Linked DNA regions of Homo sapiens. The protein of the gene in region 2 interacts with the protein of the main gene of each other region in a biochemical or structural test. Each region holds a gene or a part of one and is shown on either strand. Other genes may lie near its edges.

What was found.
Region 1: the proteins of HINFP (region 2) and MKI67 form a complex in vitro, tested with the Homo sapiens proteins (one study listed by BioGRID).
Region 3: the proteins of HINFP (region 2) and PRRC2C form a complex in vitro, tested with the Homo sapiens proteins (one study listed by BioGRID).

The regions. Positions count from the first base shown.
Region 1 is NC_000010.11:128,123,349-128,131,789, forward strand, and holds the start of MKI67 (proliferation marker protein Ki-67), read right to left. Parts: upstream 3,076-8,441; 5' UTR 2,751-3,075; intron 2,409-2,750; 5' UTR 2,320-2,408; coding exon 2,228-2,319; intron 1-2,227. UniProt on the Homo sapiens protein: Protein that associates with the surface of mitotic chromosomes and acts both as a chromosome repellent during early mitosis and chromosome attractant during late mitosis.
Region 2 is NC_000011.10:119,130,994-119,137,314, forward strand, and holds the end of HINFP (histone H4 transcription factor), read left to right. Parts: intron 1-541; coding exon 542-653; intron 654-836; coding exon 837-989; intron 990-1,249; exon of another isoform or gene 1,250-1,304; intron 1,305-1,502; coding exon 1,503-1,580; intron 1,581-1,667; coding exon 1,668-1,788; intron 1,789-1,870; coding exon 1,871-2,009; intron 2,010-2,101; coding exon 2,102-2,226; intron 2,227-2,950; coding exon of another isoform or gene 2,951-3,090; coding exon 3,091-3,505; 3' UTR 3,506-5,066; downstream 5,067-6,321. UniProt on the Homo sapiens protein: Transcriptional repressor that binds to the consensus sequence 5'-CGGACGTT-3' and to the RB1 promoter. Transcriptional activator that promotes histone H4 gene transcription at the G1/S phase transition in conjunction with NPAT.
Region 3 is NC_000001.11:171,529,703-171,537,604, reverse strand, and holds part of PRRC2C (protein PRRC2C), read right to left. Parts: intron 5,263-7,902; coding exon 4,644-5,262; intron 2,178-4,643; coding exon 2,008-2,177; intron 1,577-2,007; coding exon 1,327-1,576; intron 343-1,326; coding exon 132-342; intron 1-131. UniProt on the Homo sapiens protein: Required for efficient formation of stress granules.

The DNA.
Region 1 (8,441 bases), on a different chromosome or scaffold from region 2:
TTAAACATGTAACTATTAGATCTTTAAAACAGAGAGTATGTAAAAACAAGGGAAAACACTAGAACACAAATCGAATTACCTTTTATATGAAAAGCTATACTTAAAAGACACAAAGGAATACTTACATCAATTTTGGATAATGACTATTTTTAATACTCTGTGCTTTTTCAAAAACGTTTGTTTGTAATGTTAAATATGTTTAGAGGTTTAATCATCCCCAAATGTGCTTATTTGATGCTAGCACTTCTGTGCATCAGTTTCTTCATATACAATAAAGAAATTACATTAGAACCTACATCATGTGATGTTCAATTAAATGGTTGTACATGTCACTAATTTGCCTAGCACATAGTAAATGCTCATTATGGGTAAGCTTTTCATTGTTGTTTTAAAACTACACTGAATTTACTGACAGATTCAAGTCTCTAAACAATAAAAATACTAATTTGCAAGCGACACAAAAAAAAAATCTAAATTCAACTTGTTTTTCCACAGAAAGCTAACACCATGGCAAAGTAGCAGAAGAGACAATTCCTAAACCTATACAAACTAATAATCAGAAGAGTTTGTTAGTAGGTTCTTGGAGTCTTCAGTGTTCCTGTTCTAGCCTGTGATCTTAAAAATTTGAATAAACTATGCAATGGCCTGTCTGTTCTCCATCTGAACCTTTGGAGTCTAAGAATCTCTCTTCCTACCCAGGTCATGTGACCAAACACTTAGGAATTATTTCTAAATTATAAAATCTTGCATGAAGATATATTCAAGGAGTACTGTATAAAAAAGCAAAAGGACTGCCACTGGAGATGAAATGTTTATATTTTTCCTTTTCAAGAGAAAGGTATCTATGGAAAGTGAAAAGCTTCCTTAACCCCAATAAAATAATTTGATTTTAAGGTAACAGGACATCAGAGCAAAGGAAAGACTATCCCTTACAACTGAGAATTTGTTTGGCAGGAGGACGACTATAGATGGGTGTTTCTGAGCTTTGGCACTGTTGACATCTTGGGCCAGATGCTTCTGTATTGTGGGGGCTGCCCTGAGCCTGGTAGGATGCCCACCCTGACCTCTCCTCCGCGATGACAGCGCATGCCCCTGTCCTATATTGTGACATGGAAATTCAAATGAATCCTGGAAGGTTAGATGACCCTCCTGTGAGAACCACTGTTCTCAAGAGATTGCAAATCCATGGCTCCAGCCCATGTTTCTACTGACCCTTGCCAGAATGCTAGGTATTGATCACACCCCCTATGCCAGACACCATCCCTGGCCCTACACACGTGATTAGTAACAAGACAGTCTTTGCCTTTGGGGAGCTCAGCCTAGTGGGAGACAAACCCACAACTCACCCCTGAAGCTGTGGGGTTGGAAATACAAGTTTTCATGCAAGGCTTCCTCAGAGGTGACATTTCACCTGATGCCTGAATGATGGAAATCACACAAGCTTGAGGAAGGGGAGAACTTTCCCATTGTAAACTTCCAAGTGTGTAAGAAGTACCAAGGTGAACAAAGGCTTGGAATGCCTTAGGCGGGAGGAACAAGGTAGGGGATGGGGTTGGGAGGACAGGGTGAGGCCGGGATGGGGTTGGGAGGACAGGGTGAGGCCTGAATCCCGTGTGGTCTGGGAAATGACCACACGGGAAATGACCCCCCTTCTCAGGCCTCTAGTGGGACACATGTCAGAGGCTGATGGGGCACTGTCAGCAACTATACCTGTTATACAGGGACAGGGTTATTACCACCACCAAACAGGACAGCAATATAAGAGGAAACGTTCTCGAATTCCAGGCAGGAAGACTTTCTGTCCCATTTTCCTATTGCCACAAGGAGCCAAGAGACAAGTGTATGGCTTCCTTCCTTCATTCTCTGTGTCCCCAGTGGCCAGGGATGCCCACTGTGGAGGCACCCGGGGGCGCACAGTGTCTTCAGACGCCTGCCTGCAGCCAGTGACATATGAAGATCATCTACATCTTTCTTTACCGCAACATTAGCAAATCGATTTTTTTAATTGGCTTGATTTTTAAAACCACTTAAACATACAAACTAGCATCAAATTTATACTTACAAAACAAAAAAACACAACTATGTCAACTTAGTAACGAATGGGAGAAGCACCAAGGAAAAGTGACGGCAGGACCCAATCCTAGAGCGCGTTTCTGGACTTTATTCTGTGACTAAGGTATTTTCCTCTTTCTCAGCTAAAACGTCCGCGCGCGCCCGCGGGGCTCACCTTCCAAACAAGCAGGTGCTGAGGCTCAGGGGAAAGTGGGGACCGTCGACCCCGCTCCTTTTGATAGTAACCAGGCGTCTCGTGGGCCACATTTTCTAAACAGTAAGTTGAGTATAATCCGTAGGGGAAGGCCAGGTATAATCCGTAGGGGAAGGCCAGAAGCAAATTTACAACTCTTCCACTGCAAAAGAGGTGCGAGTTACTCTGATAGCAAAGGAGCTAAGAAGGGCCCCGTGCCCAATTCACCTATCCCCGGCCACAGAAGCGCACACCGCAGCTAGCTAGCGGGGACCCCAGGACGATCCGACCGCAGCCCCCGGCGCCCCAAAGTCCGGCAGCTGGGGTGTTGTCGCCAGCGCCTGCGCCTCCTGGGAGCTTCCACCGAGACGCCCTCGCCAGAGCCCAGGAGGAGTCGGGCCCAGGCCGCGCGTCTGTCCCCTGCCCGTCCCCGCAGAGCTCGGGGGGTCCCCGCGGCTCAGCCCTCGACCCCGGACAGCTCCCAGGAGTCCCGGCCGCAGCTCACCTGGGACGATCCGGCCCGCAAGGCCACTTGTCGAACCACCGCTCGTCAAGTCGCACCCAAAGTCCGCCGCAGGAGGAGCCGGCGCCGCGCTCACCTCCGCCCGGTAAGCTGCGCCCGCCACGCTCCGCACACACCGGGCCGCAGCCCGCGGGGTCGCGTTCGCTGCACCCCGGCCTGCAGTCCCCGCTGCTCCCGCCGCCGCCTCTGACGGGGACCCGGTGGCCCTACAGGCTACGTCCCCGGGCGCCCGGCTCTAGCGGCTCCCACCGAGTCGAGTCCTCCCGCCCGCCCGCCCGCCCGCAGCGTCAGCCCTCCACTTCCTTCTTCCAGCCCGGCGCGCCCGCCCAATTCAAACGAAAACGAAGATTCAAATTCTGGCGCTAAGCGCTGCGATTGAACGGGAAAGCGCGGCATGGGACCAATAGGAAGGGAGCGCAGGGCGTGGGCGGGGAGGGGGCGGGGAAACCGGGCTCGCGGGGCGGGGCTGGCGTGTCCGCGGGCGAGCCACTCACGCATCCGGAGGAAAATACCTGGGTGCATCCCCGGCGAGGGCGGCTGGCGGAGGGCAGAGGTGGAACACGCTCCCACCGAGATAACCCGTCCTGCTATCCTTTTCTTAAAGGACCAAACATCTGGGACACTATAACATTACTCATTGCCAGAAGATTTAAAACTGCTAAAAATTAAAAACAGGCGGGACGCGGTGGCTCACGCCGGTAATCCCCGCACTTTGGGAAGCTGAAGCAGGAAGATCCCTTGAGCCCGGGAGTTCAGAACCAGCCTGGGCCACCTGGAGAGAACCCATCTCTACAAAAAATTCGCCAGGCGTGGTGGCGCCCCTGTAGTTCTAGCTACTGGGACAGCTGAGGTGGGAGGATCGCTTGAGCCGGGGCGGTCGAGGCTGCAGTGAGCTGAGATCGCGCCACTGCACTCCAGCCTGGGCGACAGAGCAAAGCCCTGTCTCAAAAAAAAAAAAAAAAAAAAAAAAAAAATCGAAACCTTCCTCTTCAGTGCATACATCTTACCAAACACAAAAACAACCAATTATATAAAGTAGTTTGGTGTGTCTTTTCCTGCTATACGTGTATTCTCTTTTTCAAAAGCACAGAAAAAAAGGTCATAACATACACAACACGATTCTATACTTTGTGCTCTCTGCTTTTAAATATCCTGAGGCTATCTCCACTGAACACATTCTCGCTTTTACTCTCTGATGGCTGCAGAGCACTGGGCTTCGGGAAACCATAATTTACTTAATCATTACTATTGCCACATACTTAGGTTTACAATGTTTTGTTATTAGAAAACATTCTTCAATTGAAATGGCTTGTGCATGCCAAGATGGGTGAATCCTAAAATAATTCTACACAGGATTCTATCGGGGTCTGCTTCAGTTGCGCTGGTGGCCATGTGGGCTCAGTAGGCCACCTGGGGTGAAGTGAATGGAGCCTAAACACGCTTTTGGTGACAACGGCCTCTCTGCCCCATCTCACCTCCTCCAGCTCCCCAGCAACCCTTGGAGCTTGGCTCCCTTGATCAGGGAGGCCTCGATGCAGGGGACCCCTGAGGACTTCCTATTCCTTTCAGAGAGTCCATAAGGTCAAAACCATTTATCTAATGACCCTCTGTGTTACTTGCCCTTCTCATTCTCATGCTCCCAAGAGTGTGGGGTGTGGTTCTGCAAATGCAGAAGCAGTGAGGAGACTCCCACTGTCTCCGTTTCAACCAGGTATTACAGAGATTTGCAAAAATGTGAACTAAAGCGCTGTTTTCATTTTGTTGTTTTTTTTCCATAAAAATAAGTTATTGGTGTTAGCATGAAATAGGTGCATCACTATCTTAAAATGAATCAATAAATGAATATTTTTAAATTCCTTAGCCTTAACTTAAAATATATAAATATAGCTAGATATAACCCATCCACATTAACAAAAATTCCTGGTGGTTCTCAATAATTCTTAAGAGTGTAAAGGGACCACAAGATTGAAAAGACTGAGCCCTCTGCTCTAGAGCAACTACAAAGATATCAGCTGCTGATGGAAATAGAGAAACTGGGAAAGCAACATAAAAGCACAGGACAGCAACTCTAAATTGTATGGGCCAAGTCTGACGTAGAAAAATTCAGTGCGGGGATACTATTATATAAACGTTTTAGGGGGCATGAGTTTCCATGTTTTCCCCCATTAAACGATCAAACAAAGCCCACCACTGCATAACCCCATAAAACACAACTTTTCTCATCCTAATTACTGCTTGTTTCCAGAGACAGTTCTTCCACCCTCATGGATGCAGCCTAATTAGAACTAGAAGGTGCTAGGCCAGGCGCAGGGGCTCATGCTTGTAATCCCAGCACTTTGGGAGGCCAAGGTGGGTGGATCATGAGGTCAGGAATTCAAGACCAGACTGACCAATATGGTGAAACCCCATCTCTACTAAAAATACAAAAATTAGTCGGGTGTAGTGGCACACGCCTGTAGTCCCAGCTACTCGGAAGGCTGAGGCAGGAGAATCACTTGAACCCGGGAGGCAGTGGTTGCAGTAAGCCAAGGTCACGCCACTGCGCTTCAGCCTGGGCAACAGAGCGAGACTCCATCAAAAAAAAAAAATAGAAAAGAGAGAGAGACAGAAAGAAAGAACGAAGGAAAGAAAGAAAGAAAAAGAAAGAAAGAAAGAGAGAGAGAAGAAAAAGAGAGGAGAAAAAGAAAGAAAGAGAGAAGAAAAAGGAAGAAAGAAAGAAAAACATTTTGAGTTACTTCTTTGAAACATTTTGAGTTACTTCTTTTCTGTTGTTGCTGTTGTTGTTTTTCTTTTTTGAGATGAAGTCTCACTCTGTCCCCCGGGCTGGAGTGCAGTGGTGCAATCTCTGCTTACTGCAACCTCCGCCTCCCAGGTTCAAGCGATTCTCCTGCCTCAGCCTCCCAAGTAGCTGGGATTACAGGTGTCTGCTGCTAAGCCCAGCTATTTTTTTTTTTTGTATTTTTAGTGGAGATGGGGTTTCACTTTTTTTTTTTTGAGACTGAGTCTCACTCTGTCACCCAGGCTGGAGTGCAGTGGCACAGTCTTGGCTCACTGCAACCTCTGGCTCCTGAGTTCAAGCAATTCTCCTGCCTCGGCCCCCTGAGTAGCTAGGACTACAGGTGTGAGCCACCACGCACAGTTTATATATATATATATATTATGTGTGTGTGTATATATATGTATGTGTGTGTGTGTGTGTGTGTATATATATAGTATACTGTCGCTATATATATGTATATATGTATATATATGTGTGTATATATATAGTATACTGTCTCTATATATAGTATATAGTATGTGTGTATATATATAGTATACTGTATATATAGTAATTATATATAGTATATATACTATATATAACAATTATATATAGAGTATATATACTATATATAATTAGTATATATATTACTATATATATATATATATATATAGTAATTTTAGTAGAATCAGGTTTTCACATGTTGGCCAGCTGGTCTCGAACGCCTGACCTCAAGCAATCCGTCCGCCTCGGCCTCCCAAAGTGCTGGGTTTACAGGCGTGAACCACCGTGCCCAGACTTCTTCCTGGCTTTTAATCTGGTCTCTTGTGGGGAGGTTGCCCACACTTTTCTTCCCAACTTTCTTCTCTGTTACGTAAGTCAGGGACAATGTATAGTTCCTTCCAGACTTCCGTATTCTACTTTCATTGATCTTGGACCTACAAGTCGGTTTTGTAGCTCCATTTTTGGAGTTTTATTTTTTTCATGATCTTCTTTCCATTTTCATCTCCTTTAAATAGTTTCTACTAATATAGGAAAACTACGGATGTATTGTTCTTTATTGGTTATGTTTCTTGTTCTTGGACACAAAGGCATTCCCTAGGGAAATCAGAAGACATCTACAAAATTCCAATAATGATTGAAACAAATCTCAAAATTCAACTAAAAGTAAACTCAAAAAGAAATGCATTTAAAAATATTAGGCTGATTAATTTTTTAAGATGTCAGTAATCTAAGATATCCAATATGATGCTTTGCCAATCTATGAACAAGAAAAGTCTGATTATAACAGCTTACATTATAGCAAAATGCCCCATTACACAGGCATCAAATGAATTTCTTATCACTTAGTCATCTCTGCTAAAACAAAACAAAACTCTTCATGACTGGACTTTCGTCATACTTCTCTCCACACACTAGTAACCTCTCTAACAACTCCAACAATTATGTTGACTGCAGAATACACATTCCCTGTATGTACTGCTCTGATTGTTTTCCTATTTGTACCCAATGCTCCTGATGATAGTGTCTAGAGCAACATAAGACTAAGCTGCCCATCTTTTCACTGAATAATTTTTCACACATTTGAAGATGAACACAACTCATTCACTTCCTGAAATATTCTCGTTAAAATTTTTATTAGCAGTTTTTGCTGTTATTGTTGTTGTTTGTTGTTGTTGAGATGGAGTCTCGCTCTGTTGCCTAGGCTGGAGTGCAATGGGCATGATCTCGGCTCACTGCAACCTCCACCTCCTGGGTTCAAGCAATTCTCCTGCCTCACCCTCCCGAGTCACTGGGACTATAGGCATATGCCACCACGCCCAGCTAATTTTTGTATTTTGGGTAGAGATGGGGTTTCATCCTATTGATCAGGCTGGTCTCAAAATCCTGACCTTAGGTGATCGGCCTGCCTCAGCCTCCCAAAGTGCTGGGATTACAGACATGAGCCACCGCACCCGGCCTTATTAGCAATTTTGACTAGTTCTTCCTTTTTTTTTTTTTTTTTTTTTGAGACGGAGTCTCGCTCTGTCGCCCAGGCTGGAGTGCAGTGGCGGGATCTCGGCTCACTGCAAGCTCCGCCTCCCGGGTTCCCGCCATTCTCCTGCCTCAGCCTCCCAAGTAGCTGGGACTACAGGCGCCCGCCACTACGCCCGGCTAATTTTTTGTATTTTTAGTAGAGACGGGGTTTCACCGTTTTAGCCGGGATGGTCTCGATCTCCTGACCTCGTGATCCGCCCGCCTCGGCCTCCCAAAGTGCTGGGATTACAGGCGTGAGCCACCGCGCCCGGCCTAGTTCTTCCTTTTCCCACACTTAGTCTGTTCCTCTATCATGCCTGAAGGATTCTTCACTATTACCTGCAGTTATTGCCTGTGTTGAATGCAGACATCTTTGAGAGAAGGTCTAAGAATAAATTCAGGTGGCATATACATTTTACAATCATGGAGATCATGTAATCATTATGGGATGGCTGCCGCCACCTTATTTGCTGTGGCCCAGTGTCCTTTAGTTTTCATGTTCCTTCTGTTTTTTAAAGGTTCAATATTTATTGCAGTGAATTGCATATTTCTTCTTCCTCTTAACACATGGGCTTTTTTCAGTGTTCAGGTGCAACATGTTGCTTTCATTTCAGTGTTAAATTGCTCTCTGGTGTCCATGAAGTATTGCAGTGTCTTTATTTTATTGGTCTTCAGGACTCTTCCAAATATTTTTAAAGGTTTTCCTCTCTCAAAACCACTTGTCTTATCCTCAGCATCATCTTGTATTTGTGTGACCTTCTTGAAGCCAGCCAGATGTTCTCAAGGTTGAGCCCTTTCCTCAGGGGCTGGTGGGTGACTCTGGCTGCCAGTTACATTTTATCCTGAGTCGGGAACATCTGTTGTAAATGATATACTGCCAATGGGAAAGAAAAAATACC
Region 2 (6,321 bases):
GGGGGTCTTAACTCTGATGCCTTGTCCCTTTCAGGGATGCCTTATATTTCCAAGATTCCTGCTAGTATCTCTCTTCCATTTCTTTTGCTCTTTTAAAATTTGTTTATTTTTTACACACAGGCTCTTGATCTGAAGCCCAGGCTAGAGTGCAGTGGTACAATCATAGCTCACTGTAACCTTGAACTCCTGGGCTCAAGCAATCCTCCCACCTCAGCCTCCCAAGTAGCTAGGACTACAGGCATGTACCACCATGCCCTGCTAACTTCTAAATTTTTTGTAGAGACAAGGTCTGGGTGTGTTGCCCAGGCCGGTCTCGAACTCTTGGCCTCAAGTGATTCTCCTGCCTCAGCCTCTCAAAGTGCTGGGATTACAGGGTTTAGCAACCGCACCCGGCCACTCCTCCATTTCTGTGCAGTGCCTTTCCTCAAAATTTCCCATCCCCATCAAGTTAATTTGGGAGAGAGCCAAGAATTCTTCGGGCACATAGGGGTGAGTCCCTCTACCCACCCTCAGTCCTCACCCCAAGTTGCCCCTGGCACAGAATTCCTTCGACAATCCTGAGTGGTTTTATCGGCATGTGGAAGCACACAGTCTGTGCTGTGAATACGAAGCAGTCGGCAAGGACAACCCGGTGGTGCTGTGTGGCTGGAAAGGTAGGGCTGCTTCTTAACTTGTGGCTTCTGGAGGAAACGCTGGGGTTCCTGAAGAGCTGGGACAGAAAGGGATAGGGGTCCTACAGGGGCAAGGTTGACTGCCGGCTGGAGAGACTCAGGGGTACCAGATCCTAGGCAAAACTGGGGTTTTGTGGCAGGAGACTGATAGGGCTTCCTTCCCAGGCTGTACCTGCACCTTCAAGGACCGCAGTAAACTTCGAGAGCACCTCCGCAGCCATACCCAGGAGAAAGTGGTAGCCTGCCCCACCTGTGGGGGCATGTTTGCCAACAATACCAAGTTCTTAGATCACATCCGTCGCCAGACCTCATTGGATCGTAAGTAGTCAGAGGAAGTGGGGTGGATGCAGGCTGTCCTGCTTGGAATGGGTTAGGGGCATGTTTCTAGTGGGGGTGGCCACTGAAGAGACCTGCCTTTTGGCTGCCTCTTCTTTTTGGGCTCAGGCACCTCCCATAGTCTCTTTGCTGATTCAGATTCGTAGGCATTGTTATTCAGTACTTACTGTACCTCGTATCAGTTACTTAGGGAATCCTCACAACAGCCCCATGAGGTAGGCTTCTTATCCCCCTTTTTGCAGATGAGGAAACTGAGGCTCAGAGAGGTTAAATCACTTACCTGAGATCACACAGCTAGTAAGTGGTGAAGCTGGAATTCTAACTCAGGTTCTCTAAGTCCCATGCTCTTTCCATGATACTGTGTCCATTCATAGCTCCCTAAGCTCTCCTTTTCTCCTTGGGTGGTTCCCTTCTGCCTGGGATGGTTCCCCTCTCCTTTCTGTGCCTCTCCACTATCACCTACAGCCCTCCTTTCTTCTGCCTGCCCCACCCCAGAGCAGCACTTCCAGTGTTCTCACTGTTCCAAGAGATTTGCCACAGAGCGGCTATTGCGGGACCACATGCGCAACCATGGTGAGTGGCCTGCGGCCCACAGCCTCCCTCCTGCCCTCCAAGGTTCCACAAGTTCTCACATCACAGCCTCCTCTCTGCTTCTCTCAGTGAATCACTATAAGTGCCCTCTGTGTGACATGACCTGCCCGCTGCCTTCCTCCCTCCGCAACCACATGCGCTTTCGTCACAGTGAGGACCGGCCCTTTAAATGTGACTGTTGTGACTACAGGTAAGGGGGACCAGGGACCAGAAAACAGCTCATGTTCCAGTGTTCCCCATGTCCTCCAATCCCTCCTGATTTCTCATGGCAGCTGCAAGAATCTTATTGACCTCCAGAAGCACCTGGATACCCACAGCGAGGAGCCAGCCTACAGGTGTGATTTTGAGAACTGCACCTTCAGTGCCCGATCCCTCTGCTCTATCAAGTCCCATTACCGCAAAGTACATGAAGTGAGTGGGGCTGGTGTTGGGAAGGACTAGTGGAAGTATGGGGGACCCTGGGGTGAAGAGCTGGTCTCATTTCTCCCTTCCTTCCCCATCAGGGAGACTCTGAGCCAAGGTACAAATGTCATGTGTGTGACAAATGCTTCACACGGGGCAACAACCTCACCGTGCACCTTCGCAAGAAGCACCAGTTCAAGTGGCCCTCAGGGCATCCCCGTTTTCGGTATGTCTCTCAACCCTCCTTCCCAGATTAACACACTTGTTTTTATACCTTTTCAACCAGTTTTAAAAACCTTAATTTGGGTCGGGCGCGGTGGCTCACGCCTGTAATCCCAGCACTTTGGGAGGCCAAGGTGGGCGGATCATGAGGTCAGGAGTTCGAGACCAGCCTGGCCAACATGGTGAAACCCCGTCTCTACTAAAAATACAAAAAGTAGCTGAGCATGGTGGCACATGCCTGTAGTCCCAGCTACTTGGGAGGCTGAGGTGGGAGAATCACTTGAACCCAGAAGGCGGAGGTTGTAGTGAGCTGAGATCATGCCACTGCACTCCAACCTGGGTGACAGAGCGAGACTCCATCTCAAAAATAAATAAATAAATAAATAAAACCTTAATTTGATGGTGGTTTTATGTCTGCCATTTCCATTTAGATTCAAAGAATCCTAAGAATAATGGTGGAGCAAAGCTTATTTTTCTGTTTTTTGAATCTTGTAAGGCATGGTGCCAAACCCAATAAATGGTGCCAAAAAGTCCTGCAGCTGGAACTAGAGCTAGAGTCTAAGGGTTCTGATCCTTAGCTCCAAGGCCTTCTCATAAATCCTTTGACACTTTCACCCTCCAACACAGTCAGTCAGTCTCTGTTTTTCTGGTTGGGTTTCTATATAAAACTTTCCATTTTGAGTAATGATCTTTCCCTCTTGCCTTTTCTTCTACATATTCCAATAAAGACCTTTTTTGTCTTCAACTCCTGTCACTTGGATTCCAGGACTTCTTCCATCCCTCATGTTTGTTCCTTACTTTGCCAGCCTCGGCCATTTCTGTATCCCCCTGCCTGGGTTTGCTGCCCTTTATGCTCCTACCTCACCAGGTACAAGGAACATGAAGATGGCTATATGCGGCTGCAGCTGGTTCGCTACGAGAGTGTAGAGCTGACACAGCAACTGCTGCGGCAACCACAAGAGGGATCGGGCCTGGGAACGTCGCTGAACGAGAGCAGCCTGCAGGGCATTATTCTAGAAACAGTGCCAGGGGAGCCAGGACGTAAGGAAGAGGAAGAGGAGGGCAAGGGTAGCGAAGGGACAGCCCTCTCAGCCTCTCAGGACAACCCCAGTTCTGTCATCCACGTGGTGAATCAGACCAATGCCCAAGGCCAGCAAGAGATCGTCTACTATGTGCTGTCTGAAGCCCCAGGGGAGCCTCCCCCAGCCCCTGAGCCACCTTCAGGGGGCATCATGGAAAAGCTTCAAGGAATAGCTGAGGAGCCAGAGATCCAGATGGTTTGAAGGCCGCAGAGCCAGACCATTTCTTCCCCAGGTCCTGAAGTTTGAGCCAGGCAAGTGGCAGTGCCCCTAGTGGGCAGCCGTTGCCAATGGATGCCTTTAGGAGTGGTGCCGAGAGCAGTGTGGTCCACTCTGGCCTGGGTTTGCATCATTCTGCAGACTCTAAAGACTTCCCTTTTCTGCCAGACTACATTTTGTGGGGAGCCTGAGGACTCTGGATTCTTTGAGGGGATCCTGGATGTGTGTGTTCTTGTTAAAGAGGCTGTTATCAGGCTTAACCATAACCCTCAAGATCTGCTTGACAGTGATTAAATCCTTAGCTCACATCCATTCCCATCTTTCGGGCTCCTTAGGCCCAAGGATGGCATGTGACTGGTCCCTGCAAGGGTCCTTTCTTTGTCACCAGCCAAGGCATTGATAACCAAGTAGCCATTTTCCTCTTAAGGTTTCCTCTACAACCCCAAGGACTTTCATGATTATCCTCAGGGACAGGATTGGAGGCATTGAGCGTGTTTATTAACAAATTGTTTTTGGTAATAAAATAAATGCTTGGACTCTTATTTATTTCTTCTTACATTTGGTGGCAGTTTACTAGGTAATGAGGAGATACAGCCACCCAGAAGAGGAGCTGAATAGTTAGGCTTGTTCCCCTTCTGGTGACTCAGGTGGTTTGTTTTTTGTTTGCTTAACTGTCCTGTTGTCTTCTCCTCCTCCCCTTGGTGAAACTTCGCTATTCTCAGAGCGTATGCCATTTCCATGGAGGTCCCAGGTGTTTGGCTGTGAGTGGGCAGTAGTGGTGCTATAGAATGAACAAGAATGGGCTCACTGGGAGGATAGGGCAGCTGACCATGGCCTCACTCTGAATACTGATTAGAACCCAGTGCCTCTAGGGTAGGGGTTCTTTACCTGGGAGTGGGAAGGAAGCTGGGGGGTGGAGAGGATTGGGAAGCCTCCCAGGGAAGGGAGGCAATCAAGTGGTCCAGGAACCAAACTAGAAAATTGTGTGTCTGAATGTGCATTTTCCTGGGGAAAGGATCTGTTTTTTGCTAGATTATCAAAGAGATTGAAACCTCCCAAAATAAGAATCATCATTTCGTCTGGTTCAGCTGCTTCTCAGCACCCTGTGTCCATTTTTATGGTCTACTGCTATGCTGGAGAGGTCAAGGAAATAGTCTTGGGGACAGGAAGCTGCCCAAAAAGGATCTCTGGGCCTTTTTTTGTAAGACCTAATTCTATTACTAGAAAAACTAAGGCTGAATGCAGTGGTTCACGCCTGTAATCCCAACACTTTGGGAGGCTGAGGCGGGCGGATCACAAGGTCAAGAGATGGAGACCATCCTGGCCAACATGGTGAAACCCCGTCTCTACTAAAAATATAAAAATCAGCTGGGCATGGTGGCACACATCTGTAGTCCCAGCTACTCGGGAGGCTGAGGCAGGAGAATTGCTTGAACCCGGGAGGCTGAGGTTGCAGTGAGCCGAGATCATGCCACTGCACTCCAGCCTGGCGACACAGTGAGACTCCGTCTCAAATAAATAAATAAATAAAGAAAGAAAAGAAAAACTGTGTGTGTCTATTTGTGGAAAGAAAAAGATCTCTTCATTAATCCCATCAGCCATTTATTGAGTTCCTACTATAGTCCAGGCACAGGTGCTAAGGATACAAAGATGAATAAAACCCAGGACCTTCCCTGGAGGGACTTGCAATGCAGAAGCAAGGAAAGACTAGGTAAGCTGAGTGATAGAAGTTAATCAGGGTACATTTAGAAGGCTCCAAATAGGAGTAATGGTACTACCTGGGCAAGGGATCAGGAAAGGTTTCATCCAGGAAGAGACCTTCCACCTAACCAAGACTAGATGAAGACTTTAAAGGTTCTAAACTCTGAAAAGATTGTGGTGTCCCATTTTTCATATGTAATCAGAATGAAAATATTAAGCCATGAAACATTTAAAGTTCAACATGATTATACTTAAAACATATATTGTATATAGATTAACTATCAAATTCTGTTTCTAATTTTTTCTTTTATTTTTCAGTTCCCCAGTTTTGCTGGTGTCTAAGCACTGGCGTGGGGTGTCCCTTGAGTAATGCAGCACTAATGACTCTATCCATTCTTCCATGAGCAGTGTCTTCGGGAGCAGGCCAGCATTCTATGAAAAGGACCTTCCCTACTAGTCTTCTCAGTCATGCCCACACCAAATCGCATTGCTCTATCTGGACCATGGAGACAGCAGAAGAGATTCTGGTCTGTTACCATGTGATTCCATTCCCTAGGAGGAGGGGTGACTTGGGATCCTGGACTCAGTATGCATGGCTTAGAAAGTACTGGACCAGGAGTGAGGGGTCACTGTTGAGTAGTCTAGGCAGCCAGAGGCCTCTGGAAGGATACTAAAGGCTGTGGTGGGTGACAGTGGGCTCCTGGAGGGAGGAGGGTGATGATACTAATTTGGTTACCTTAGAATTTCACCTAGAGTCAACCCTGGTCCCAGCATCATGGTGTCTGAAGATTAAGGAGACACCCTGTCTTAGTCTTCCTTAAAGGGGGTAGGGATAGGAGAGAAGGCAGGTGGCCCAGGAGTTGGAAGCAGATAACTTCTTTTCTCTTATTTGTGGCAAGTCCACAACCACAGAGGACTTAGAAGAACTGGGTGGATATAAAAAAGTGTCAACTATGGCCGGGTATGGTGGCTCACGCCTGTAATCCTAGCACTTTGGGAGGCCGAGGTGGGCGGATCACTTGAGGTCAGGAGTTCCAGACCAGTCTGGCCAACATGGGGAAACCCTGTCTCTACTAAAAATACAAAAATTAGTTGGGCAT
Region 3 (7,902 bases), on a different chromosome or scaffold from region 2:
ATGCTAAATTAAATAGAAGGAAACCAGATTTATGCTTCAGTCCTAAATTGGAATGATCTTCAGAAACACTACACAGTTTTCCTTTTACCAAAATATTCTGTATCATCTATTAAATTGAAATAATTTATTACCTTACATCCTCAGGCTCTTCTGTTGCTTTGGGAGTAGTTGCTTGTTGAGGCTCAGCATGAGGATAGGGATCTGACCCCCACAGCATACGAGGCTCAGAAAGGGAAATTGCGTGATCTCTTGCAGATCGAGCTATATGCTCAAATGACTCAGAACTGTTCGGTGACCCTTCCATCTGGTCTCTTCTCATTAATGGTTTAGGAGGAATCATTCCTGTAACAAAAGTTCAGAAAAAGGTGAAATGAGGATTTTGAAAAATGAACGAAACAAAACCATGATAGACATAGAATACAGGTTATTAATTGTTAGGTGGAATTCTCCATATTAAAAGCATTTTTTTCCTGAGTAAAAGATTGGTGGAAATTATGTAAGGGTTGTTCTGTGAATGGAATTTTATTACTGCTGTTAAATAAAAATTGCATTTAAGAACTGAGGAAGCAAAATAAGCAAAATCACAATAGCAGCCTGTTTTACTTCAAAAGAAAGAAAATATTATGCATATAAAAATCAGACACCAAGTACTGTGACTCTGGATGTCAATACAAACATCATGAAAATTATACTATGATAACTTTCAGAGAAAATTCTTTCCTAAATTCCATTAACCTACCTTAGTTGGTCAATATTCTACAAAATATGCCACTTAAATTTCCAAATACCAGTATAAATGTAAAAATCAAAACATGATTTGTGATCAGCTTATCATCCCTAAATTTTCCTCTGTAACATTTTGGTAATAGATTATCTTGATTTATTCTGATGGATTCCATAAAAGACTGCTAATTCACTTTTTTTCCCCCTAACCTAAAAGGAAATTCAAGTGTTAGGTTGGTAAATGATGGAAGAAGAACTTGAAAAGGAATATATATAACATATGGACAAAATTCAAACGCTGAAAACACTTTAAAGAAGAACAACAATGTAGCCAATAACAAATACTGTTAATAACACATAATTATTTCCATCTGAAGTTTTAAATAATACTTACAAAACAGAAATGAACTAGTATTTTGTTCTTGCCACATAAGTAATATGAGTGTCAGATATTTAATTACTCGATGCTGAAAGTTACATCATTTTGATTAAAAATCGGAGGTTTAAGTTTTTCCTAGATTACAACTCTCAAAGGAACTGAAACTAAAAGCAGGGAAAAAAAAATTTTGATCCTGTAAAACTATAAATGCAAATTCAACTGACCAGGATGAATGGGTGGAATATCCATAGCAGGTCTTCCTGACATCATTCGAGGATCCATGTAGGACTGCATCATGAGCCACCTTGGATCAAAACCCATAGAAGCCAAATGCTGAGGATGAGGCTGCATAGGCTGATAAAGAGGTCTGTGTGGTGGAGGAGGGACAGTACTACTGGACGGTTGTGAAGGAACAGTCTGTGGAAGTACACCTTGCTGTTGCTGCTGCTGCCACTGCTGCTGTTTCATCTGTTCCTGAAAAAGTAAGATCCCATATCTTGAGAGTTTAGTTCCACATGACAAATTAACATAATCAATCATATCACAAAATAATGGCCTGTTTTGAATCCTTGAAGGAAAAGTAAGAGTTCAAAAGGTATTTAACAGTTAAGAGTTGGCAAGACAAAAAACTGAAAGATGAACTATAACATTTTACCTTATACTCAAGCACTGTATGATCTATCTCCTAGAAATGGAAGATGGTGTCTATAAATGAGGCAGAAGATCAAAAGGAATGACACAGAAGGTCAAGGTAAAACCCACGTTAACTTTTATTTACAAGGAAAAATAATTTCAAGGGAACTTTGTGTGCTTTACGTATTATCAGTTTTATGTCTAATTTCCCAGACTACTGCATAATAAACCACTTCAATCACACATACATGATAAAATATTTTTATCATTACCTGCTGCCGCTGGAATCGTGGAGGTAAAGACTTCTGAAACTGTTTGAAATAGCCAGATAATACAGCCGGCCGAGGTTGAGACCCTGATTCTGGTTCTGTTTCATGCACCACTGGTGTGGCTTCCTTTTCACTGCGATTGCTGTCTTGTCTAGTGAAAACGGGTTCCTCCTCTGCTCAAAGAAAAGGTGAAAGGTAATAGTATTCATCTATGACACTTATCAAACACAGGATTTTTACAAAGACTGAGGTATAATAAAAGTTAATGAGGAAGAAAATATCCTCGACACTCTAAAACATTATTTTCTACTTTAACATTGGTAGTTATCAATGAGGTAACATTAGATTATCAAAACCTTAGATTTCCTAAAAGCTGCATTCTTAGAGATGGAGAGCAGAGATCCAAATGCTTCATCATATAAAATCTATGTTTTTTTTTTTTAAATAATGAAACATTTCCAACTCCACATATTTTTTATTTGTTTCAATAAACATCAATGTAATTGTCAGTATTTACTGGTAGTTCATTAAAATCTACATGAAAACACAAATGGCCTATAAATACTTAAAAAGAGAGCATGTTGGTTTATTTAGTTATTTATTGGGTAAAGGGACTATTATCTGTAAGGAAAACTAATGAGTTTAAGTCTGAAGACAACAGAGTGATCACTAGTTATCTTCAAACATAATTCATTCTAGAATGTCATTTGTCACAATTACAAATCCACGCTTGTTACAAATTCTTTTCTCAAATGACTAGTAATGAATTTAAAATGGAAGTTTATCTCCCAATGTAAAAGCATGCTGTTAAGAATCACAAATAACATTTTTATTGCTTGGATTACATTCAATATTAAGAATGTTGTAAAAGAGTGAGCAGGTCATGGTGGTGCATGACTGTAATAACAGTAACTCAGGAGGCTGAGGTGAGAGGATCACTTTAGCCTGGGAGTTTGAGACCAGCCTGGGCAACACAGCCAAAAAAAAAAGAATGGAAAATAATATACTGGAGGAAAAAGAGCCACATAGGCACTGACTTTAAAATCACGTGTGTCTTGAGAACATCTCAGAGAGCATTAAAACAAACAAAAAAATTGTATGTGTCTAGTATCAGAATTGAGGGGGGAAAAAAAAATCACATGGGTACATCTCACTGATAAACAAGCTAAAATTAAATTGCCATGAGAGAGAATATATAAAATGTGAATGAAAATAAAAGCACAAATAAAACTTATTAAACTATGATAATGTTTTCCTTTCTCTTGTGAACACTTTATTTCACTATTTTGGTGTTATGAGCAATCTTCATAAGTACTTATGTAATATAAGCCCACTATTCAATAGCAAAGTCTCTCTAGATTGATTAATATGAAAAAAATCTGAAATCTTAGAGTCTTAACAAATGGTCCATACAGGCCTTATTTCATTAAAAAAATTAAAGATAAAATACTCATACTCCTTTATAGTTAAATTAAGAGCCAAGTTTGAAGGTAACCCTGCATATAAATAAAAACTTTATTTTTAAAAACACATTCTTATTATTTTAAGCAGCAGTGCCTTGTAGAAAAGAGCATGAGACGTCAGGTTAGAAAACTTACAATATTTCCACATCAGAAAATACACTGAAATAAAACTGCATTTCTATTTTAATTCAAGTCGTTCATTAAAACTAAACTTTAGGCTGGGCGCGGTGGCTCACGTCTACAATCCCAGTACTTTGGGAGGCCGAGGCAGGCAGATCACGAGGTCAAGAGATTGAGGCTATGCTAGCCAACATAGTGAAACCCCGTCTCTACTAAAAATACAAAAATTAGCTGGGTGCGGTGGCACGCGCCTGTAGCCCCAGCTACTTGGGAGGCTGGGGCAGGAGAATCACTTGAACCTGGGAGGTGGAGTTTGCAGTGAGCTGAGATTCCGCCACTGCACTCCAGCCTGGAGACAGAGAGAGACTCTGTCTCAAAAACAACAACAACCACCACCACCACAACAACAACAAACAAAAAACGAAAACCCTGAACTTTAACTTTGCCAAGGCTTTATACTATATTTGAATGCCATTAATCAGTCTACAAGCCAACTCGGAGAAGAACAAAAAAGTTGATTAGATCTAGAAAAAGAATTTTATTTTAAAGTATAATTACTCCAGGAAATTACAGTTTAATAGCATATCAACTACACCATGGAAGCTTGCATGTTTAAACTGATTAAACAGCAAACCTGAAATTATGAACTAGGTGCAGTCATTTAATTATGATAATCCAACATACTCATTAAGCTCTATGCCAGTTCAGTTTTAGAGGTATTAATGCATGTGAACAAATGAGATTTTGTTTAGTTAAATGTCTTGGAGTCAGAAAAAAGCAGGGGGAGAATCAGTATATGTGACTATGAAGCCAATACAATTCTGCAGATAAAACAGAAATGAAGCTCATCTAATAACTGAGAAACACTTCAGAGACGTCTGTTCATATACAGAATTAGAAAACACGGCTCTAGCCCATATTTTGTACTGCAAATGCTATCATAAAACAATCACTTTTATATTGATTACATATATTTAAAATATACAAACCCCAAACTGTAACCAACATAAAGCTCTTTGTAAAGTTTTTAAAAGAGAATGAAGAATACTATCAAACCTTTATTACAGCTGTTTTCACTTTCTTGTTTTTCTACCATGGGCTCTAAATTAGGTTCTCTGGGTTCAATTTTCTCCTCTAATTTTTCCCTTTCCTTCTCCAGCTCACATTCCTTTTCTTGTTCTTTCATCTTTTGTAGTTCTTTTTCCTTTTCTTTCTGCCGTTCTAGTTCTTTTTCTTTTTCTTGCTTTCTTTCTTTCTCCATTTCTCTTTGTTTTTCCTGCTCCTTCTCCAGCTCTTTCTCCTTTTCCTGCTGTCTCTCTCTGTCTTTTTCCCTCTCCTTCTCTCGCTCCTGTTCTTGTTCTTTTTCAAGTTCTTTCTCACGCTCCCGTTCTTTTTCTCGCTCCCTTTCCCTAATTTCCTCTGGAGATGGTTGTTTTTCCAGGATGCCAAGCTTCTCATCCAATCGTTTCAGTTTCTCCGCACAAGCTGCCTTCCTTTGTTCTTCCATTCTTCGCTCTTCCTCTTCACGCCGTTTACGAGCACGTTCTACTGCTGCAGAAATTTCTGATTGTTGTCTTCGTCTTTGCTTCCATATTTCATCTTCATCAGCTACTTGCTGCTTGGAGGGAAAGGGGCCTGGTCTTCCAGGTACTGCCTGTCGATCTGGAGGTGGATGCTGAAACATTAAGGTATCAGATGAGTTATGACAACTCTATTTCTGACTAACACTGGGTATCAGGCATGGAGAAGGAAAAACCCCACAAAAATATCAGAAATTTCTCTGATGAACATACACATTAAAATGAAAACACATAAGATGGGAAATATATTACATCTAGATAATTCACCAAACTAAGACCAGAATAATTAATCCAGCGGTCCAATGTTTACTGAGTATGTACCTATTATTGTGCCAGACGTTGTTGCTCATTCAGTATTTGCTGAATAAAACTAGAAGCACAACAGTGAATCTCAAAATCTAAATTTAGAGACAAAGGAAATTTAGCATGGATACTTTAGAAGCAGCTGCCAGAGTTGGAATGTCTAAGGGAGAGAAATGAAGGTATTAAATATCCAAAATGATGGCATGTGAGCCCTGAGAAAATTAAGGTACAGCTACAGGTAAAAAGCACAGAGCCAAAGAAGCAAAGTGAAAAAGACAGAGTCAGTGCTGTAATGATACCCCAAAGGAGAAGAAATTCCTACAAATTAGTCTGGGTGAAGAAAAGTTCTATCTTTAGACTGAAAGATCCAGAAAAGCGTATCTAGAACCCGGAGTGGAGAATCGGAGGATCATCTGAAACATCCAAGTTTCAATGACTAAATTTTCATTAATGTGTTATAAAACAATGACAGGTTTTAAAATCACTGCTTGCAACTATGCAAAAACAATAAAAGTAATTAAAAAAATGTTTTTAACATATTGATTTTAAAAGCTACTAGGGTGAAGAAATCTTAAGAGCCATATGTAACCCAGCTGGAATGCTTATAAAAAGATTAAACAATGACACAACGAAAACACTTGACTATCTTTTTAAATGAATGCAGACTACCATTTACTAATAGTGCCATCATATGCAAATTACTTCATCTCTCTTGTGCTGAGTTTCTTCATCCACAGCTCAGAGATAAGCTGAAAAACCAAATATATTAGTGCCTAATTTACACAACTCACTTCATAAAAGTAAAATTTACATAAAATGTGCTGTGCTGCACATATTTTAAGTGTATAGTTTGATGAGTTTGGACAAATGATACACCTGTGTAACCACTGCTCCAACGCAGACACAACATTTCCATCACTCCTCTGCCTCCCCCTGTGGCCCCAAGCACCCCAACCCTAACCTTGTATAGTTCTGTTTGTCCTAGAATTTTATATACATGTATAAAATTATATTCTCTTTTGTGCTAGCTTCTTTTGCTAAGTATAATGGCATTGAGGTTATTTTATGTATAAGTAGTTTGCTCCATTTTACTGCTGGATAGTATTCCATTGTGGGCACGTTGTTTCATGTATGATAGACACGTGGGTTGCTTCCAGTTTTTAAACTATGAATAAAACAGCTATGAACATTCATGCGTAAGTCTTTGTGTAAATGTATGTTTTCCTGGCTGTTGGATAAACAGCTACAAGTGAAAATCCTGTGTCATATGGTAAATAGATATTTCATTTACAAGAAACTGCCAAACTGTTTTCCAAAGTGGTTATAAGGTTTTCCAATGTATAAGGGTGCCAGCTGCTCTATACATCCTTGCCAACACATGGTGTCATCAGTCTTTAATTCTGGCAGTGCAGTAAAATCTCAGTGGTTTTAACTTGTATTTCCCTAATAACTAAAGACACTGAATATCTTTTCATGTGCATACTGGCCATTCTTACATTTTCTTTTGAGAAACAAATGTTCAAGTCTTTTTGTTTAACTACGTATTATTGAGTTGTAAGATATTAAAAAAAAAATAAAAATACGGCCCAGGCTAGACACGGTGGCTCACATCTGGAATTCCAGCACTTTAGGAGGCCAAGGCAGGAGGACTGCTTGAGCTCAGGAATTCAAGACTAGCCTGGGCAACATGGCGAAACCCCATCTCTACAAAAAATACAAAAAAATTAGCCGGGCATAGAGGCACATGCCTGTGGTCCCAGCTACTTGGTAGGCTGAGGCAGGAGGATCGCTTGAGCCCAGGAGGTTTAGGCTGCAATGAGCTGAGATCTTGCTCCAGCCTCGGCAACAGAGCAAGACTCTGTTGCGCAAAAAAAAAAAAAAAAAAAAAAAAGCCCAGCTACAAGTCCTTCGTCAGATGTATTAGGAATATTTTTTTCTGTAACATATCTTTGCATTCTTTGGGAAATGTTCTCCAAAGTCCAACTGACCAGCTGCTTTTCCTTTCTAATTCGTGGCCAAGGTCTTATTTATCGAAGAAAACTTTGTCAGCTCCAAGTTCATGAACACTTGATCTTCTATACTTTTTTCTAGATGTTTTAGTTTTAGTTTCTGTGTACGCAGAAATGTTATAAAGAGCTTTCAGTGGTTATGAGGAGAGGGATTGCTGGAAACGATGGTGATGGTTGTGATATGTACAGCTATCACAGTAGGGTGATTACAGAAGGTCTGGAGACCCTGATCATAACAACGATTTCAGGAAAAGAAAATCTGCTAGTTAGAAAGAAGAACAAGTAAAAAAGTCAAGAAGAGCAATGTGTATGTGGTAAGAACAGCAGATGAAATTAGAAAAGTAGACAGAGATCTGAAAGATCATGAGAAGGACTTGAACAAGGAGTAACGGACCTAATCCATAGTTTTAAAAAGACAACAAC